3 separate regions of the Homo sapiens genome follow, and regions 2 and 3 are each reported to be linked to region 1. The links are microRNA targets in miRTarBase. Many come from high-throughput screens and were not tested one by one. Region 1 holds a microRNA gene; each other region holds the end of a gene's coding sequence.
Evidence for each region. The annotated mature microRNA hsa-miR-548at-5p reads AAAAGUUAUUGCGGUUUUGGCU and lies in region 1 at 2,278-2,299, opposite strand. An mRNA with a match to its seed (bases 2 to 7 or 8) in the 3' UTR can be bound and repressed. Matches are read on the target gene's strand: a 7mer-m8 pairs with bases 2 to 8, a 7mer-A1 pairs with bases 2 to 7 and ends in A, and an 8mer does both.

Region 2: miRTarBase lists C1orf21 as a target of hsa-miR-548at-5p. Seed matches in the 3' UTR shown: 7mer-m8 at 2,088-2,094, 8mer at 4,198-4,205, 8mer at 4,214-4,221 and 7mer-A1 at 4,308-4,314.
Region 3: the mRNA of SPIC is a reported target of hsa-miR-548at-5p. Seed matches in the 3' UTR shown: 8mer at 968-975.

The regions. Positions count from the first base shown.
Region 1 is chr17:42,493,072-42,497,071 of GRCh38, reverse strand. MIR548AT (microRNA 548at) reads right to left here and starts at 2,299; the gene lies at 2,242-2,299. It overlaps ATP6V0A1 (ATPase H+ transporting V0 subunit a1), which reads right to left. Exons shown (of 22, transcript NM_001130021.3): 12 at 2,599-2,738; 13 at 1,884-2,038; 14 at 1,356-1,446.
Region 2 is chr1:184,618,783-184,623,136 of GRCh38, forward strand. C1orf21 (chromosome 1 open reading frame 21) reads left to right here. Exons shown (of 6, transcript NM_030806.4): 6 at 736-4,354. The coding sequence ends at 774. The region is part of intron 2 of LOC107985236 (a long non-coding RNA gene); the gene reads right to left. Among named protein-coding and RNA genes, the nearest start is that of EDEM3, 130 kb to the right of the region's middle.
Region 3 is chr12:101,485,945-101,490,298 of GRCh38, forward strand. It overlaps SPIC (Spi-C transcription factor), which reads left to right. Exons shown (of 6, transcript NM_152323.3): 6 at 400-1,053. The coding sequence ends at 827. Among named protein-coding and RNA genes, the nearest start is that of SPIC, 13 kb to the left of the region's middle.

The sequences.
Region 1 (4,000 bases):
CCTCGGCCTCCCAAAGTGCTGGGATTACAGGCGTGAGCCACCGTGCCTGGCTTATACATTATGATTGTAGATATATCTCTTGAGTCTCTAAACTACAGGTTCTCCTTCCATCTTTCCTTTTTCATTCATTACAAAATTTCTTTTGAAGAAATTGGGTTGTTTATCTTATATATTTTCCCACAGTCTATGTTTCGCTGATTGTAGCCCTGTGGTGCTGTCATTCCATCTATTTTTTTGAGATGGAGTCTTGCTATGTCCCCCAGGCTGGAGTGCAGTGGCACGATCTGGGCTCACTGCAACCTCCTCCTCCCGGGCGCAAGCAATTCTTCCACAGCCTCCTGTAGCTGGGACTACAGGCATATGCCACCGTGCCCAGCTAATTTCTGTATTTTTAGTAGAGATGGGGTTTCACCATGTTGACCAGGCTGGTCTCGAACTCCTGACCTCAAGTGATCCACCTGACTCTGTGTCCCAAAGTGCTGGGATTACAGGCATGAGCCACCTCGCCCAGCCTGTATTATTTTTTTTTTTCCTCAGCAGTCAGATGCCCTGTATTACATTCTTGCCGCCACTCCATTTTTACAGCACACAATAAAGAAGACTTGATCATACTTAATTTGCCTAAGCATTTGAAAAAAAAATTAATTCTCGGATAAGTTTTTGTAAGTTCGTAAATATAAGAATGCAAGTCTAAAATCCACAGGAAAAATATATTTCTGCTTTGCTAAAATGTCTGCTAAAAATAAAAAACCAAACTAAGTAAGCAGAAATAAATTAAGAAATGGGAAGGAGTCTTGAAAAATCAATCTTCCCAGAGTCGATATTATTAACCACCTCAGAAATAAGCAGCGCAGGGAAAAGTATGTGGCTCCTCAAGGCACTTGGGTCTCTTATGGCTTAGAAGTCCTCTGAATACATACATCAAGGTTTCCCAAAAATATGTCAACGAAAACCCACATAACTATTTTTGTTTGTTTCTTTCTTTCTTTCTTTTTTTTTTTTTTTTTTTTGAGACGGAGTCTTGCTCTGTCACACAGGCTGGAGTGCAGCTTGCTCACTGCAACCTCTGCCTCCCAGGTTCAAGCGATTCTCCTGCCTCAGTCTCCCGGGTAGCTGGGACTACAGGCATGCGCCACCACGCCCGGCTAATATTTTATTTTTAGTAGAGATAGGGTTTCACCATGCTGACCTCAGGTGATCCCACCTCCTCGGCCTCCCAAAGTGCTGGGATTACAGGCATGAGCGACCATGCCCAGTGAAAGCCCACATAACTATTTATCTTCATTTTAATTCTCTTGCTTCAGGGTTAGTGTTAAAAAATTTGAGGTTAGCATATAGGAAGGAAGTCCTCTTACTGGATCAATGCCAAAAGGGTATGGTCCACCAAACACTCCAGGGAGGGCTGGGTTCAGCTGTAGAACAGGGTTCCCCCGAAGCGTCTCTTCACTACCATGACAGGGAAAAAGTCACATTATTTTTGAACAAGAGAGGGAAACAACAAGGGTCCAGAAACTGACCCCAAAATAAATTACTGTAGCTATCTTGTCTCTTCAATAAAATGGGAGGGGAAAAATAAAGAGGAGAGACTAGCAGCTGAGACTGAGGGATCCAAAATGACAAAAAGAAAAATTAAACACACAAACACACAATCAAGTAGGGAACTGGGGAATCTGGTTTTAGTTTCCAAAAAAAAAAAAAATCATTTCTAATCTTAGTTCCTGGATACTTGCTGAACAAATCACAAAGCAACTCACAGTGTGGAGCATGAATGAGGAGACACTGTCACCACTTCCTAAAGAAGTGTCAGTTTACCACTTGTCTTAAAAATCAGGGCTGCACATGAAAGGAATAAGCTTTGAATTTTAGCTTCTTCTGCAACTTACGTCCAATTATAAGTAAACATCGGCCGTACACTCCAGGATGACCCAAAGATATTAAGAGACTTGGAAAAGCAATCATTGTAGATGAGGCCAGTGTACATGGAGAACACACCCATCAATAAAATAATGTATCGACCACTGAACACAGTGCTAAACATCTGGGAACCAGAAGAAAGAAGTAATGAGAATGTACTCACTGCAGCTCACATTGTGACAATGTTATTCAGAATATACCTGCCCCTTTCTCCAGCACTACTTTACCCCATCCTGATTCAGAGAGCTTGAAGTAAAAACCAAAATACAATGCTAATGAGACAGTCACTTTCACAGGATGTGGCCTCTATTTTTTTATTAGGTTGGCACAAAAGTTACTGCGGTTTTGGCCATTTCTTTTGGCAGCCAAAACCGCAATAACTTTTGCACCAAACCTAAATAATTTTTATTTTTTTAGAGATGGGGTCTCACTATGTTGCCTATGCTGGTCTCGAATTCCTGGGCTCAAGTGATTCTCCTGCCTCAGCCTCCAAGTAGCTGGGACTACAGGCACACACTACCACTTCCAGCTTGCACATGTCGTCTTTGGTGTTAAAATGAACATAACTTCTCTACTTCCTTTTGATAAATTCATGGATAAAAGACTTCCAGATCATAATTTTCATAATGAATGCTTGGGAAATTATAAAATTTCAGTTCAATGCAGATGTAACTTAAACATTACCTCATTCTCATTCTTCTGGGAAAGGATCCGGCTCTCCCTCAGTACCATCCACACAGCAAAAAGGGTCATTAAAATGCCATGACCGAAGTCTCCAAACATCACAGCAAATAGAAAAGGGAACGTGATAATAGTATACGGAGCTATGAAGAAACCAAAAAAAGAAAAATACAAAGTACATTAAACCATAGCAATTCCACAAATATTACATTCTTTTCCATACCCACCCCCCTTTTTTTTTTTGAGATGGAGTCTTGCTCTGTCAGCCAGCAATGTCTCAATCTTGGCTCACTGCAACCTCCATCTCCCAGGTTCAAGTGATTCTCCTGCCTCAGCCTCTTGAGTAGCTGGGATTACAGGTGCCCACCACCATGCCTAGCTAAGTTTTGTATTTTTAGTAGAGACAGGGTTTCACCATGTTGCCCAGGCTGGTCTCCGACTCTGACCTCAAGTGATCCACCTGCCTCGGCCTCCCAAAGTGCTGGCATTACAGGCGTGAGCCACCGTGCCCAGGCTTCCATAATCTTAAGATCAATATAAGGTGACTTACTCCCCAGCTGCCAGACAGATAGGACTCTCAGAGAAAATCTTTCATGGCAGAATCAACACATCTTCACAAAGTAGCTAATGAAATTTGAGCTACTGATAACTTTTTTTAAAAGAGAGATGGGGTCTTTCTCTGCCACCCAGGCTGGAGTGCAGTGGTTTCATCACAGCTCACTGCAGCCTGCAACCCCTGGACTCAAGTTATCCTCCCACCTCAGCCTCCCAAACAGTTGGAACTACAAGTATGTGCCACCATGCCCAGTTAATTTTGTTTTAAAATTACTGATAAATAATATTTTTTTAGATGGAATCTCACTATTTTGCCCAAGCTAGTCCTGAACTTGTGGCCTTGAGCAATCCTCCCACCTCAGCCTCCTGAATATCCGAGATTACAGGCATGAGGCACTGTGCCTGGCAGCTCTGATAACATTTCAAACAAAGAACAGTGGAAATGAAGGTGTAACCTTGACAACATTGGTTTGTTCTCTGACTCTCTTGTAACTCGTGGGACCCTGCTCCCAGGGCAGGCCAGCTGTCTTCTCTTTGTGCAGCAACCATGTCCCAGTGATATAAAGCTAAATATCAGATAACGTACAGATGGAGAGAGCCCAGAGCAAAGCAGTTCTTCCATAGGGCTCCAACTGAAAATGAATACTCACACTCTTGATTTAATAATTAACTCTCCAAATATAGGAGAAATCTGTGTTGTACCTAAAGTGGCCAATACTTGCTACATTTTTTCTGTCTAACCTTGGAACAGGGAAGCCAAAAAAAAAGCCATTTAAAAATATCAGACATCTTAGAAGAAACATTTTGCTTAAAACAGTTCCTGCAAATGATTTGCTAGAGAAGTCCAGGT
Region 2 (4,354 bases), not on the chromosome of region 1:
GGTTACAGACCAAGAGAGTCATGTGTTTTGACCAAGACAAGCCAGCTCGGTTAAATGTGGATCCTTAAAGCCCAGCCCCAATCATGTCTTCATTGAGTTTATGACCTAGAGGAGAGAGGATAAAATATGTTCACAAATAACCATTGTACATAGTCCTTAGAGCTTCAGATAACCTGTTTTAGTTAGCAAATGAATCAGAAGCATCTTTGCCTTTCTTGTGCATCCCACACATACCAAGCACAGACCTGTTATGCGTGTTTAAGGATTCTTGTTTGTTGTTTTTTGTAATCCGTTTTAGAGTGAATTAAACTCAGACATCCCTGGATTGTATGCTGTCTGTAGAATGTTGATTTTCAGGCACGGGGATGTAGCTGTAGAATGTGGCTTGTTCATTCTTCCTGATAAGAAATTGATCTCCTGAATGGATTGGCCATTTGGTAATTTCTTAGTGAAAGGCTGACTCTTGAATATGGCTGTTATAATATAAATTCTTACCAACATAAAGTAAGGGCTTATTTGGGGCTTGGTAAAACTGTCATGCCTTGAAGTATATATAGCTTATAAATTGGCTAACATGTATTTATGACGTAGCTACCCCTGTGCCAGCTATCACTGACAAAGCCTGGATTCTGTTGCAAGGAGACATATATTGAGAGAAAATTGATTACAAGTAACTATTTCAGGCTCTGCTTTGAATTTCTCATTCACATGCTCTTTTTTCTTTTTCCCTCCAAGGGTCGGGATTACTGTTCGGAAGAAGAGGATATCACATAGCACCAATTTTACCACTCAAACCAGGAGCTACTACTGTGTAAATAGGTTACACCCCAGTTGAAATCTTTGCAAAGGTCGGTTCTATTCAGCGAACAGCACTATAGCAAAAGAAGATCGTTCCATATTGTACGCCCCATTAAATTACAGTGTTTCTTAATGAACTTGCAAAGGAATATTGCTAAAAACAAACAAAAAAAACTGTTATCGAACTTTCTTTGTTGCTGCTAGTTAAAACTTGTTGCAACTTTTCACTTCTCTTGTGTCCAGGTATGCAGCAAAATTCTGCAATTTCACCTTAAAGATACTGTTGGTTTTACAGATGCTCTCCAACCTATTTTCTATAAGATGAGGTAGTGGTGAACTCAGATAACAAACTTCTCTTCTAAACTGGTTCTGCTTCTAAGACAAGCATCTCCTGCCCTCTCTCCTTCCTCCCCATCTCTCGCACGCAGTCTAGAGATGGACTGAGCCTTGCTTCTCACTGGCAGTGTTGAGCTTTGGAGATGGGATGGTTGCTATGCCAAGCCTTGTTTCTCTGCTCAGAAGAAGTAGAGAAGCTATTATCAATTAAAAGCATGCTGTGATGTGACTCCTGGAAGTGACGTAGGAGTGAGTGGCAGGTTGTTTGATTTAATAGGTATCTTAATCAAGAATTAAGCTTGCAACATTGGCTTTGCTCAGATGCAGATGGAAGTGTGATCACAATCATTTTGAATCCCTCTTCCTCACTTTTTTTTCTAAGAAAATAAACATTTTACTGTTTTTATGGATCCTTGTCTTCTCCCATTCATCCAGCTCAGTGTTTTAAGATGATCCTGGGTGCAGAAGTTGAGCCCTCCTTTGCATTGACACTGATAATTAGCCTATAGGGCTCCCTACCCTTCCATTAAGAATCTACCAAGCATTAGCAAGGCTGAAAGTGGTCTAAGAGGTGAGGGGACATCCTATGACTTTTTAGGAAGGCCTGAAACCACCTTGTTACCTTTCATTTTGTTAGCAAATAAACCATCCTATTTTGTAACTCTCCCCCTTCAAAATGCTACATGAGCCTTGCCACTTCCTTTTTCTCTTACTTCCAGCACACTAGACATAGCAAAAGTGTTTGCCTACTCAAAAACATAATACTTTTATGCTGATGATGGTATTTGGAGATGTGAAAGCCAAAAGCCCCTGGCAGTGGTGGGGAATGTTGACTGAGTGTTCAGCAGAGTTTATTTTTCCATACTATATGAAGAGAATGATCTCTTCTCAAAGACAGAAGTGATATTTTTAACAAATATTGTCACAAGTAAATAGCAATCAAAAGGAGAAAATAACTTTTGTATTTTTTTAATGTGTTTGATAGCTTTGACGAGGGTTCTCTTTGTTACTTTCAGGGGAGGGCATCCTATTAAATGCCACGCCAGCAGTCCGGGTCTGGGTTTGTCCCACAAAATCACAGGAGCACTGTATGTTCCTCTCTTTTGGAGTTGTGACTTTGAAGGGCCTCAATATTAGCCACACTGCCGCCTGCAGAAGGTGGAGAGTTAAGATGTTCTATGTCAATTTGCTCTTGCCGAAAAGATGAGCCTCGATTTTAAAATCTATCCACATCCAACTGATGGCACCATTGATGTGCAAATAATGAGATTCCCTATCTCCTTTTAGACCTGGGACGGCAAAAGGGAAGGGAAGGAAACTTAGCAGAGTGCTATTGACTATAGATTCACATATTAGCAACAAAATCCCGTAATTCTTTTGGCCAACAGCAGCTATTTTGGGGAGCAGCTGTGGCTGTTACATAAATAGAGATGCAGCCAAAATTTTAGGCCTTTTATCCTGCTTCTAGCAGAAAAATGCAGGGAGAGTCAAGTAGTCTAGGGTTTCAGGTTGCCTCCCCTCATATGGTTTTTGGCCAAGTGACTAAAACAGTTTTCCACAACTGTAAACAAACTGCTAAGCCCCACCTCAAACTTGTTCACTGGGGACTTTGCTTACCGTTCTGTGGGTGACCTTTTCCGGGATTTCTTGTTCTTATCAAGCAAGAATTAAGCACATGCTAAACGTCTTCCATTTGACTTCTCTACTCGGTGTCTCAGACAGTGTCTTCCCAGAAAACCACCACCCTCTACCCAAAGATGAAACATGCTCATGTCATTTTTCTCATGGTCACATTTAACAGTTTTGACATGTTATACTTGCGCATAGATCCAAGCGTTTCTTGGGAACCTGACTTTTGAGTGTTTAATAAAGCCGGAAGTGGTGTTGCCCTGAACCAGCAGATTTTCACCTGGGTTCTGGCTCCGGTGTTTAACACTGGATACATCTTTGATGTGCGAAAGTGAGTTCATCTTCAGACACATTTGGTACATCCAGAAATAGATCCAAGAAATGGGGTGGTTGAGTGGGTCCGCACGAAATGCTTGATTATGTCAGCAACACCCAACACTGTCTGTTTTCCATTTGTTGGTTTTAATCATAAAATTGTCAAGTGATTCGTGTTTGTACTTTATTTTTTTGTGCCTTCTGAAAGGATCTAAAACAAAAATATTTTGCCTTTTTTTCCCCACGTGTATCTGAACATTAAGCAGATTGGCTCAGACACAATGAAAAGGATAATCCAATGTACGTGCTGGTGCACTCTGCTAGTTGTTATCTCTGTAGGGCTCAGGAAGCTGGAAGGAGGAAGGGAGGGTAAGTGGCCTGGTGAGTGGAGGTAGAAAAATGATGAGAAATGAACTGAGAGCATTAAGCAGAGAGGGTTGATAGGCTGGCCGTGTCCGGGGTGAAATTGGAAATCCAGCTGCCTAGTGGCCAGTGGGTGGGGCAAGACTGTCAACGAGATTTACAGCTGGCTTACACATGCCTTATGTCCTCTGAGTTGTAGAGTTGTAAAAGTTCAGCAGTGTGTGCACAGCTTTCTTTTGGTTGGCAGAGATTCAGGATCATGGAGTACTGCTCTCATAATTGAAGACGTGTTTGTTATTGGCAGAGAACCTTAAAAAAGGCCTTTACCTCAGCGATGCTTCCTAGCCCCAGGCTTGCAGAGAACACAGAGTGGTGTTGTGGTCTATTTAGGGACAAAGAAGGTATAAAGTCCAGAGATGAGAAAACTGGGTCAGCCCTCAGAAACTGCAGCAGCCACGCACACAGAAGCCTGCTGGAAGACAGGTCTCTCTCCGTCCACAGTGCCCATCATCTGAGCCTGGGCTGGGATGACTCAACTTAGCAAAGACGGACCCAGGAGGAGTGCTGGTTCTTCAGTCTTTGTACTGGCCCCATCCTCTCCTCACTGTAATGTGAGGAAGCACCTCTGTGTCAGGGCTCACCTGGGCATCCAAAGCGGCCACGCCCACAATCCGACAGCCCCCAGGAGCAGGTCCAGGGATGATGCAGCCCCCTTCTTGGTCCCATGTGATGTCATCCTGCTTTGTTATCTTCTTATAACTTTATCCTGCTATAACTTTATCCTCTTCCCAGCCTCATCCCTGTTTTTCTGTTAGGGCAAGACTCTTCCATAAGCCTGCTAAAAAACAGAGATGATACCTCTTACAAACTTTACCTCATAGCCTGTGAAGCAGGTTGGCATGTGGATTACAAG
Region 3 (4,354 bases), not on the chromosome of region 1:
AGGCGCGTGCCACCCTGCCTGGCTAATTTTTGTATTTTTAGTAGAGACGGGATTTCACCATATTGGCCAGGCTGGTGAACTCCTGACCTCAAGTGATCCGCCCTCCTCGGCCTCCCAAAGTGCTGGGACTACAGGCGTGAGCCATCACGCCCGGCCAGGCAACATTCTTAACAACTTCTCCAACAAAGAAAGATCCAGTTGAAACTTCAATAGGCCAAATAGATCCTCTACCTTCGAATCCCATAAAATGATGCCATCATGCATTCGTAAGGGCAGTGAGTGGGAGAAAAACCAGTCTCGATGCAGCTTTTAATTCAGTAGTTGCTCAACAAACCCTTTCTGAGGATGTTCTCGGTTTACAGCCACGGTGGAGTTTGACCTTGTTTCCCTTCATTTTAGGCAGGAAGAAGCTCCGACTGTTTGAATACCTTCACGAATCCCTGTATAATCCGGAGATGGCATCTTGTATTCAGTGGGTAGATAAAACCAAAGGCATCTTTCAGTTTGTATCAAAAAACAAAGAAAAACTTGCCGAGCTTTGGGGGAAAAGAAAAGGCAACAGGAAGACCATGACTTACCAGAAAATGGCCAGGGCACTCAGAAATTACGGAAGAAGTGGGGAAATTACCAAAATCCGGAGGAAGCTGACTTACCAGTTCAGTGAGGCCATTCTCCAAAGACTCTCTCCATCCTATTTCCTGGGGAAAGAGATCTTCTATTCACAGTGTGTTCAACCTGATCAAGAATATCTCAGTTTAAATAACTGGAATGCAAATTATAATTATACATATGCCAATTACCATGAGCTAAATCACCATGATTGCTAAATATACTTTCATATTTCATGGTTTACTGGCATCGGAAATCTCTACAAGTTTTAATGATTTCTCCCTCCCTCTCTTTTTTTCCTCCTCTGAAGAAATTTAGGATTTTTCTCTTAAAGCAAATACTAAAGAGGAAAAAAAATTAACTTTATTGTTGCTTTTATCAAAGAGTATGTAATCTATACTAACTTGTTGGGAAATTCTGCCAATGAACAACTTTTTTATAATACTTTGTGAAGATTCAATGAACAACTTTATTGTTTCAAATGATCAAGCCCATTTGAAAGTATAGACTAAGGTCCTTGCTCTGCTCTTACTGTTCTCTCTCTATTAAAATTTTTATTTTTTTATTTTATTATTTTTTAAAGATGTCTCAGCCAAGATAATTTTTTATTTTTATGGATTTAGGAGTACAAGTGCAGTTTTGTTGCTTTGATATATTGCATAGTGGTGAAATATGCATCCTCATCACCAGAATAGTGAACACTGTACCCAATAGGTAGGATTTCATCCCTCATCCCCCTGGCATCCTCCCACCTTTCAGAGCCTCCAGTGTCCATTACTCCATTCTGTATGACCATTGCTAAGCTCCCAACTATACCCATTTTATTTTATTTTAAAAATTGTTTTCTTTTGCTGCATACTTCAATGGATGCAAAGTCTTTTTCTTTTTTCTTTTTTTCTTTTCTTTTCACAGACGATGACTTCTTTTTTTGTTTGTTTGTTTGTTTTTGGCTGCTAACTCCCAAGCACAACACTGACAGTGACTTATATTTTTAATTTTTTTTTTTTTTTTTTTTTTTGAGACGGAGTCTCGCTCTGTCGCCCAGGCTGGAGTGCTGTGGCGCAATCTCGGCTCAGTGCAAGCTCCGCCTCCTGGGTTCATGCCATTCTCCTGCCTCAGCCTCCCGAGTAGCTGGGAGTACAGGTGCCCGCCACCACGCCCGGCTGATTTTTTTGTATTTTTAGTAGAGACGGGGTTTCACTGTGTTAACCAGGATGGTCTCGATCTCCTGACCTCATGATCCGCCCGCCTCGGCCTCCCAAAGTGCTGGGATTACAGGCGTGAGTCACCGCGCCCGGCTATTTTTAATTTTTTTAAGAGGCAAAGCCTACCTCTGAAGCTCTCTCTTTTTTTCTTTTCACACTTCAATAAGCTGGTTTAAATTCTTGCTATTCTCTATGCAACCACCTTCTTCTAGATTAACAGTGCCAGTACAGATGATTTGATTTATATATTGATTTCAGCATTTTCTTGTCATGTACTCAGGTGAGAAAATTCACACTTTTATATGATGGCTTTACAAAAAAATTTTGTAAATGACTGCATATGATAAAGCCTTTGTGCCAAAATGGGTTCATAGCTTTAAAAACATCACTAGAAATGTCTGTTCAGCTTCCTTACACATTTTTTTATTTCCTTCTCTTTTGATCTTACCCATTTTTACAACTTAAAGCTTTTTTTTTTTTTTTTTTTTTGAGACAGGGTCTCACTCTGTCACCTATGCTCAGGTGCAGTGACACAAACATGGATGAAGCCCAGCTAATTTTTTTTTTTTTTTTTTGTAGAGACTGTTTTGCCATGTTGCCCAGGCTGGTCTCTAACTCCTGGGCTCAGGTGATCTGCCCACCTTGGCCTTCAGAAGTGCTAGGATTACAGGTGTGAGCCACCGAGCTGGCCCCAAAACTTTTTTAATGTTTAAGTTTTACCACTGTACTAAGGAGGAGTTACCCATTTTTTTAATTGCCTTTTTTCTTCCTTCTTATTAGGGAGGGGTAAGGAAGAAGACTTTGTCAGCAGAAAGCAGGTCTTAATTGCTTTTTTGTTTGTTTGTTTTGTTGCTATTGAGTTGTTTGAGTTCCTTATATGTATTGGATATTAAACCCTTGTCAGATGTCTGGCTTGCAAATGTTTTCTCCCATTCCATAGGCTGTCTCTTTACTCTGGTGATTATTTCCTTTGCTGTGCAGAAGCTTTTTAGTTTGTTTGTTTTAGCTACACGTCATGAACTAAGAAGCTTTTTAGTTTGATGTGATACCATTTGTCTATATTTAATTTTGTTGTCCATGCTTTCGGGATCAAATCCAAAATATCACTACCCACACCAATGTCTTATATGTTTCCCCTATGTTTTCTTTCTTTCTTTTCTTTCTTTCTCTCTCTCTCTTTCTTTCTTTCTTCTTGTAATCATTAGAGAAATGCAAATTAAAACCACAATAAGATATAATCTCTCACCTGTCACAACGTCTTAAAATGTTTATTATTATGTTTTTAATCATCCTGTACTTTATTTCAAAACAATGTTTTCAAATGAAGACACAAAAGATAAGTGTTGGTAAGGATGTAGAGCAAAGGAAACACTTGTACACTGTTGGTGGAAATGTAAATTGGTGTAGCCATTATGGAAAATGGTATGGAAATTCCACCCCCCCCCGAAAAAAAACTAAAAATAGAATTATATGATCTAGAAATCCCACTTCAGTGTATTAATGCAAAAGACTCGAAATCAGTTTGTGGAAGGGATATCTGCATTCCTATGTTCATTGCAACACTACGCACAATAGCCAAGTTAGGGAATCAATCTCTGTCTATCAACAGATGAATGGATTAAAAAAATGTATTGCATATACATGATGGAATACTATTCAGCCTTTAAAAAGAAGGACATTCTGGCCAGGTGCAATGGCTCACACCTGTAATTCCAACACTTTAGGAGATCAAGGCAGGCAGATCACTTGAAGTCAGGAGTTTGAAACCAGCCTGGCCAACATGGTGAAACCCCATCTCTACTAAAAATACAACAATTAGCTGGGTGTGATGATGCATGCCTGTAATCTCAGCTACTTGGGAGGCTGAGGCAGGAGAATGGCTTGAACCTTGGAGGCAGAGGTTTCAGTGAGCTGAGATGGCACTACTGCACTCCAGCCTGGGCGACAGAGTGAGACTCCATCTCAAAAAAAAAAAGGAAGGAAATCCTGAAATTTGTGACAACATTGATGAAATTGGAGAACATTATGCTAAGTGAAATAAGTCAGGGCTAGAAAGACAAATACCACATGTTCTCATTTATATGTGGAGTTAAAACAATGAACTTATAGAAGTGGAGAGTAGAATTGTGGTGACAGAAGCTGGAGGAGGGGGAGATGGGGAGGTGATGAGCAAAGGGTATACAATTTCAAACAGGGAGAATATGTTTTCTCTTTTTGTGCATTCTATTGCACAGCATGGTGAATATAGTTAATAGTAGAGTGCTGTACATTTCAAATTGCTAAGTAAACTTCAAATGTTCTTACCTCAAAGAAAGTTAAGTATTTGAGGTGATGGGTATGTTAACTAGCTTGACTGAATTATTTCATATGGCGTTCACAAATCATAACATCATTTTGTACCCCATAAATTTTTTCCCCACACAACTCTCTCTTTACAGAACCCATAAATCTATACAATTATAAATAGTCAATTTACAATAAAAAAGAAAAAAACTTTAGTGGGTATCTTGAGTCTGTATTTTCTCTGCACTTCCACTCAT